Linked DNA regions of Homo sapiens. The protein of the gene in region 2 interacts with the protein of the main gene of each other region in a pairwise test. Each region holds a gene or a part of one and is shown on either strand. Other genes may lie near its edges. The genes, in order: CTDSP2 and CSF1R.

Evidence for each region.
Region 1: the proteins of CSF1R (region 2) and CTDSP2 interact in a two-hybrid assay, tested with the Homo sapiens proteins (one study listed by BioGRID and IntAct).

What each region holds. Positions count from the first base shown.
Region 1 is NC_000012.12:57,836,599-57,840,408, forward strand, and holds part of CTDSP2 (carboxy-terminal domain RNA polymerase II polypeptide A small phosphatase 2), read right to left. Parts: intron 617-3,810; exon of another isoform or gene 493-616; intron 1-492. UniProt on the Homo sapiens protein: Preferentially catalyzes the dephosphorylation of 'Ser-5' within the tandem 7 residue repeats in the C-terminal domain (CTD) of the largest RNA polymerase II subunit POLR2A.
Region 2 is NC_000005.10:150,058,876-150,062,685, reverse strand, and holds part of CSF1R (macrophage colony-stimulating factor 1 receptor isoform a precursor), read left to right. Parts: intron 1-836; coding exon 837-963; intron 964-1,090; coding exon 1,091-1,195; intron 1,196-1,713; coding exon 1,714-1,824; intron 1,825-2,823; coding exon 2,824-2,986; intron 2,987-3,810. UniProt on the Homo sapiens protein: Tyrosine-protein kinase that acts as a cell-surface receptor for CSF1 and IL34 and plays an essential role in the regulation of survival, proliferation and differentiation of hematopoietic precursor cells, especially mononuclear phagocytes, such as macrophages and monocytes.

The DNA.
Region 1 (3,810 bases), on a different chromosome or scaffold from region 2:
ACCACTGCACTCCAGCCTGGGTGACAGAGTGAGATTTTGTCTTTAAAAAAAAAAAGTGTACATGTACAAACACGTGAACACGTGCACACATACACACAAACGAAGACCAGAGTGACCAGGGCAACACTGTTTTTAATCTTCTCCTGAAAGTCAGGTCCAGATACCACTTTTGTCAACAACACAGCTTTGTGTCCCAGCAAAGGAACTCCTCACACATCTGCCTGCGATTCAGCAGAAGGTAACCTCTGAGACAATCAGATTTTAACAAGCCCATTCAGGTAGAAAGTTGCTTTCTTTTTTGGTTCATCCCCAGAAGTACTTCCTTCCCCACCACCTCCCATCCCCCACAGCAAAGGACTTAGCCTTAGCCTGGCTATCACTATAAAATGGCCCCTCTGAGGGGCCTCCTTCCTCTCAGCTATTGGAGGAAGGAGAGTATTTGGAGCATTTCCGGCCCTTCTTGGACGGCTGCCTGAACCCTGCAGCCAAGACACATTTGACTGGGACTCCCCCATGGAGAGAAGTCCTCCCAGGTCCTCTGCAAGGGGCATCTGTTCCTTGGCTATGGACATGCCCTAAAGTGCCAGGTGGACGGAAGAGCTCCTGGGACCAGCAGGTGAGTCGGCAGGGAACAAAAGAGGGTGAGATGCCTAGACAGCCCCCACACACAAAAGACTGCAAACAATGGGGAGGGTGTACTGCTTTCATGCCTGGCCACTGACACTGTTCTCTACAGCTAACAAGCAAGGCAGGGCCGGACCCAGCTTAGCACCGGCTCCCGAAGTTCCAAAAAGTAGCTGTGTATCTAACTGCATGGGCATTTTTTGAAAAAAGCAGTTTTAACACTTTGGGGGGCAAAGGCAGTGGGGATCACTTAAGGTCAGAAGTTCGAGACCAGCATGACCAATATGGTGAAACCCCATCTTTACTAAAAATGCAAAAATTAGCAGGGTATGGTAGTGAGCTCCTGTAATCCCAGCTACTCCGGAGGCTGAGGCACGAGAATCACTTGAATCCAAGAGGTGGAGGTTGCAGTGAGCCGAGATCACACCATTGCACTCCAGCCTGGGGGACAGAGCAAAACTCTGTCTCAAAATAAATAAATAAATAAATAAAATTTAAAAAATTAAAAAGCAGTTTTAGCCATGCTGTTTGGCCCATACCAGCATGTTGTATGCTGGTGCCCTCTCTGCACCAGCAACTGGGGCAGCTCTACCTAAGCCAGTGTCTCCATTAGTTCCCTTTCCCTGGGCAGGAGAGCTCCCTATATGGCTGTCTCTTCTTTCAGACCTGAGTCCTTAATGCCACCTGTGGGGCGAGGGTCACAGGTCACACACTTTCTTGTCTCTGCCCCTTCAGCAATCTGTTCTCTGACCTCAGCTAGAGAGGTAAGAGGACTCAGTTTTGGGAGCAGGGGATTTCTGGCAGTTCTAAAGCACGCTGATTTCAGAATCAGCCTCTAAAGGAGGTATTGCCAAAACACCCTCCTGGGCAGCTCCAACGTACTTTAAAAACGTGCTGGGTTGGGGTGGGCCTCCATAAGTAGCAGATCCTGGACCAGAGACAGAGGAGGCGTTTCCTCATAGACAAGTCAGCTGCAGGCTCAGCCCTGCAAGCCCCACTCCAGAGGACTCTTGAGGGATGTCAGGAAGTGATCTAATAGCCCACAGGGCAGCAGGGACAAGCCTGAGATGCCATCCAAGAAAACTCAAAGGACTGGATCCTGCCCCTGCCTCAGCAGGAGACCCTGCCCTATGTAGCACCAGCCAGAGCAAAGGTATCATTGTGAGGGATTGGAAACCACACTTGCCTACCTGGAGTTACCCCTCCTTCCCCCTAAGGAGGTGTATAACAAGCCCCTGTGGGAGGGGCTACACACAGACAACCTCTCAGTGAGTGTTTCAAGTTCCTGCCTTAGTGCTGTGCCCTTGACTCCTGGAATGCTTAGATATAGTTGAAGCCTAGGAAGAATCCACTGCTTCTTTCCCTTCCAGGTATGTAGGCCTGCTTTAGGTTGATACAAACGTGAGCTGGAGAAAGCAGTGAGGACACAGGACAAAGCAAGGGTATCTGTTCTGACCAGGGAAAAATACAGTGGTGACACAAGGCACCCAGACTTGAGTTCGAATCTAGGCTCTGCCATGTGTAAGGTATGCAGCCATGGGCCTCAGTTTCTTCATCTGCAAAATGGGAAGACTACCTATTTCTCAGTGTCAGAATTGCAGGGAGCTCAGGGAGTGTCCTGGTCCTAACAAAAGCTTTGTAAGTGTCAACTGCTACTCATTAAGTGCAAAGTACTTTCATACTCTTACCTCAGTCTCCATCTCAAAATGTTCACATTAAAGGGACCATAGAGATTTCTTCTAACTCATTTCAGAGGTAGTAACAGGGCCAAACCGGAAATGATGTTTTCCGGGACTCCACAAAAACGAATCAGTCGCACACACACATACACACTCATTGAGGCTGGCCAACCAGTTCCTCCTTCATATGGCTGGCCTCTGCAGAAGGAATGGAAGGAGTCTGCCAGGGAGGCACCCATCTCCAGGGACATTCTGCTGCTCCCCCCACACCCCTCAGCTTCACCTATGACCAGCCAAGCCGTATAGGTGAGTCCACTTGAGAAAGTACTGATCTAGAAGTCAGGAAACCCAGCTCTTGCTCCAGTTCAGCTTTTCAACAGTTCCGTGGCCTTGCTAGGGCACAATTCTCTGGGGTTCAGTTTCCTCATAAGCCAATCTGGAAAGGTTTCCCCTGCATGGTCCCTTAAAAGGTGGCTTCACCTGAAGCATGCACCTGAATCATGAACTCAAAAGCACTCTAAAAGGTGAAATGTTAGGCCGGGCACGGTGGCTCAAGCCTGTAATCCCAGCACTTTGGGAGGCCAAGGCGGGCGGATCATGAGGTCAGGAGATCAAGACCATCCTGGCTAACACAGTGAAACCGCGTCTCTACTAAAAATACAAAAAATTAGCCGGGCGTGGTGGCGGGCGCCTGTAGTCCCAGCTACTCAGGAGGCTGAGCCAGGAGAATGGCATAGACCCAGGAGGTGGAGCTTGCAGTGAGCTGAGATCGAGATCGCGCCACTGCACTCCAGCCTGGGCGACAGAGCAAGACTCCATCTCAAAAAAAAAAGTGAAATGCCAGACAATGCAAATGTCTGGCTGACACTAGCCATGTACCCTTGGGCAAAGTCCTTCCCTCTCCCTGTGAAAGTTTTCCTTATCTGTAAAGTGAGGTTAATTCCTCTTATTGGAAAGGAAAAGTTGTCAGGAGAACTAAGTGAGATACGAGATATAAAATGCTAGGAATAGTACCTTGCCTATGGCAAGTACTCTATAAATATTGGCTGTAACCATTACTGGGTAAACAAGGATGGATCATTACTCTGTCCATTTACTCTGAAAACTTTAGGACTCCCCTTGAAGAGCCACAGATCTTTAACATACAGTAAAACGGGACCACCAAGAGGAATTTTCCTGCTCGGGGCAAAACAGGCAGTTGGGGCCACTGCTGTGCCTACCTGGCTCTTCTCCAGGGGCACCTGTCAGAGCCACAAGGAGCATTTGGAACACATGCATGCCTGACCCACCTGCCCATGCGCTGATTCAGCAGATCCCAGGTGGGGGGTCTGTATTTTTAGCAAGTGTCACAGGAGACTCTGATGTGTGTCCCTGGCTGAGAGCCAGTATCTACCGGTTGCCAGGGTCTCTGACTAACCCAGGGCTAGAAGGCAATTCAGCCAAAGTCCCCTTGGCCCCTCTCCCCACCGTACCTGACTGGCTCAGTGTTTCTGCAAGCCTTAGAGGA
Region 2 (3,810 bases):
GTTCAACTCTGAATCAGCGGTGCCTGACACAAATAGATGTTCAAGAAAGTATGTGGATGGGCTACTATTATTCAGCCTTAAAAAGGAAGGGAATTCTGACCTGTGCTGCAGCATGAATGAACCTTGAAGACATTATGCTGGGTGAAATAAGGCAATCTCAATAGACACATGCTGTGTGAGTCCACTGAGGTGCAGTGCCTAGAGCAGTGCAATTCACAGAGACAGCAGAATCATGGTTGCCAGGGGCTGGAGGAGGGAAAGGGGAGTTGCTTTTTAACAGGAACAGAATTTCAGTTTTGCAAGATGAAAAGAGCTCTGGAAACTGGTTGCACAAGGTAGAATGTAATTTACTTAATACTACTGAACCATACACTTAAAAATGGTTGAAATGGTAAATTTCATGTATGTTTTATCACAATTAAAATATATATATATATTTGGATGGGAGGTTGGGTGGGTGGATGGATGGGTAGATGGATGGACAGATGAACGGATGGATAAGATCTCAAGTTCCACCCTCCCTCCTGGCTCAGGAATTACCAGATTATCAGAGATATCAGGGCCCTCAGAGGTTGTCTTGTCCAAGGTCTTCAATACACAAATAGTGAAACAGGCTTGGAGAAGGGAAGGTCACACAACAAGGCAGAGTCAAGCAGGAACATGCTCTCAGTGCTATGTTCATGAGACGACCTCTCTCAGCCCAGAGCAGGCCTTGCCCTGCCTTCTCCCACTGGGCGCCTTGGGACTGCCCACACCCCTGCTCTTGGGGGTCAGAAACAAGGTCCAGGAACTGCCTGCCAGCCCCGACTGCCACGTGCTCCCTTCCTCTTCTGCAGAAGCCCAAGTACCAGGTCCGCTGGAAGATCATCGAGAGCTATGAGGGCAACAGTTATACTTTCATCGACCCCACGCAGCTGCCTTACAACGAGAAGTGGGAGTTCCCCCGGAACAACCTGCAGTTTGGTGAGATGGCAGCTCATCACTCCACAGCTTCCTATCACAGGGCCTGTGGGGGTTGCAGGGAGCCCATGGGCCCTTGGACAGAGGCCCTTTGGTGCCCAGGGACTTAAGGGACCTGTGTGCGTGGCAGGTAAGACCCTCGGAGCTGGAGCCTTTGGGAAGGTGGTGGAGGCCACGGCCTTTGGTCTGGGCAAGGAGGATGCTGTCCTGAAGGTGGCTGTGAAGATGCTGAAGTGTGAGTGAGGGGAGGGGATGAGGGAAGGGATGGGGGGTGGTAGATGCTGGGGGTGGGCTGGCCCTGGTGTCACAAGAGGCATCACACACATTTCAACCTGTTGAAGCCTGGGGGACAGAGCTCAGGGGTGAGGACTTGGGTTTTCTTGTGAGCTCCAGGCACCCTCTGACTCCCGGCTCCAAGAAGGTCTAGGTCACCCTTTAGTTGTGAAGGGGCTCCTGACTGAGCTCCAAAAAGTCTGGGGGTGCAGAAAGGCCACCTATGGCCATGGCCTGGCCACAGTTTGGCTTCCTGTCACCTGAAGACCAGCTCAGTGACAGGCTCATCCCTCCTCTCTCTCTCTCTGCCATCTGTGTGTCTGCATTTTTCCTTCTCCTTCTTTTGGCTTCTGGTCACTCCGGGTCTTGGGGTATGCCCTGCTTTCTCCCCTGGGTCTCTGCATTTGGTCCCCATGTATCTGTGTGGTGCTCTCTGTCCTGCCCTCTCCCTGTCTTTGGGACTGTGGTTCTTCCTCCCAGCCACGGCCCATGCTGATGAGAAGGAGGCCCTCATGTCCGAGCTGAAGATCATGAGCCACCTGGGCCAGCACGAGAACATCGTCAACCTTCTGGGAGCCTGTACCCATGGAGGTAAGGGCCTTGGGGTTCCTGGGGCCAAGGTCTTGGGGCCTCTGGGGAATCTCAGGGCCCCAGGGCTACCTTGTTCCGTCTTCTCCTTCTCAGGATCCTACTGCTCCAAGTGTCAGGGGGATCCCGGTCACAGCATCCCTTAAACTCCTGGGCCCATCTCCTGGAATAGTCAGGAGCTGCACGGGCAGCTTGAGGTATAAAGAGAGACTGATAGGGAGCATCGGAGCCCTTGGAGGAGGAGATGAATGTGCAAGCTCCTAGGCCCTGCTTCCAGGGAGCCGGATCCTCTGGGTCTGGAGTGAAGCCCCCCGCCTACCTCTTATGAAGCTTCCATTCAAGGATGCTTGGACACTCTCCCCAGGGCCCCCAAAGGTGCCCCGGGCTTTGCTGGGACTCCAAGTGCCCCACATCCTCTTCACTGATAGCAGCTCTGACCTACAGTGAGCCGCCATAGCTTTCCTTTGAAGAAATAATTCTTGGGCTACATTTTTTTTAAGGTTGTCTTTTTTTTTTCATTTTTTGTTTTTTTTTTCTTGAGACGGAGCCTCACTCTGTCACCCAGGCTGGAGTGCAGTGGTGCGATCTCGGCTCACTGCAACCTCTGCCTCCCAGGTTCAAGCAATTCTCCTGCCTCAACCTCCTGAGTAGTTGGAACTACAGGCACATGCCACCATGCCCGGCTGATTTTTTTGTATTTTTGTAGAGATGGGGTTTCACCATGTTAGCCAGGATGGTCTCGATCTCCTGACCTCGTGATCCACCCACCTTGGCCTCCCAAAGTGCTGAGATTACAGGCATGAGCCACCGTGCCCCGCCAAAGCCATCTGTTTTAAACAAATGGAACTACTGAGGCACAAGGAAACTTGCTCACAGAGCCGAGGTTAGAACTCAGCTATGCTGAGTCCAAGTCCAGTGGCCTCACTGCCCCCAGTCTCATGCTCCTGTTCATGGAGGGGAGCACTCAGCACCTCCCTCACCCCACACCCTTGGCTGCTCTAGGCCCTGTACTGGTCATCACGGAGTACTGTTGCTATGGCGACCTGCTCAACTTTCTGCGAAGGAAGGCTGAGGCCATGCTGGGACCCAGCCTGAGCCCCGGCCAGGACCCCGAGGGAGGCGTCGACTATAAGAACATCCACCTCGAGAAGAAATATGTCCGCAGGTAGCCCCTGGCAAAGGACAAGAAAAAGGCCAGGTCTGGGAGGCAGGATCCGAGTCTGTCTTCAAAGCCAGCTCAGGGTTGGATGGCTCATGAATGGGTGGCTATGCAGCCCTCACCTGCCACCTGTGTCATGGGAAGTAGCCACCACAGGTTTTATGGCCATCTCTTGTTTCTCTACTCCTTTTCCCCTTCATTCAACAAATATTTGAACACCTACCGTGTTCTGGGAGTGTGGAGGGCAAAGATGGGCAGCTCATAATCTGGTGGAGATATGCATCAATGAAATCACCACCCAGTGTGTGTAAAAGATCAACCAAGATCTGTGCCTGGAGCCCTAGTAAGAGATGGGCAGATGTGGCCGGGTGCAGTGGCTCATGCCTGTAATCCCAGCACTTTGGGAGGCTGAGGCGGGCAGATCACCTGAGGATGGGAGTTCGAGACCAGCCTTACCAACAAGGTGAAACCCCGTCTCTATTAAATATACAAAATTAGCCGGGCGTGGTGGCGCATGCCTATAATCCCAGCTACTCGGGAGGCTGAGGCGGGAGAATTGCTTGAACCCAGGAGGCAGAGGTTGCTGTGAGCTGAGATCACACCATTGCACTCCAGCCTGGGCAACAAGAATGAAACTCCGTCTCAAAAAAAAAGAGAGATGGCTCTGTTGTCCTGTTGCTGTGATTCCTGGAAGCCATCCAGAACAGAGCCATCCAACAGACAGAGCCACATGGGGAACCAAAGAGAGGAAGTGGGGAGATTCATGTCACACATGAGTCAGGGTTAGAGGTGGAGCCTGGACTAGAATCCTGCTCTCTTGACTTCCAGTC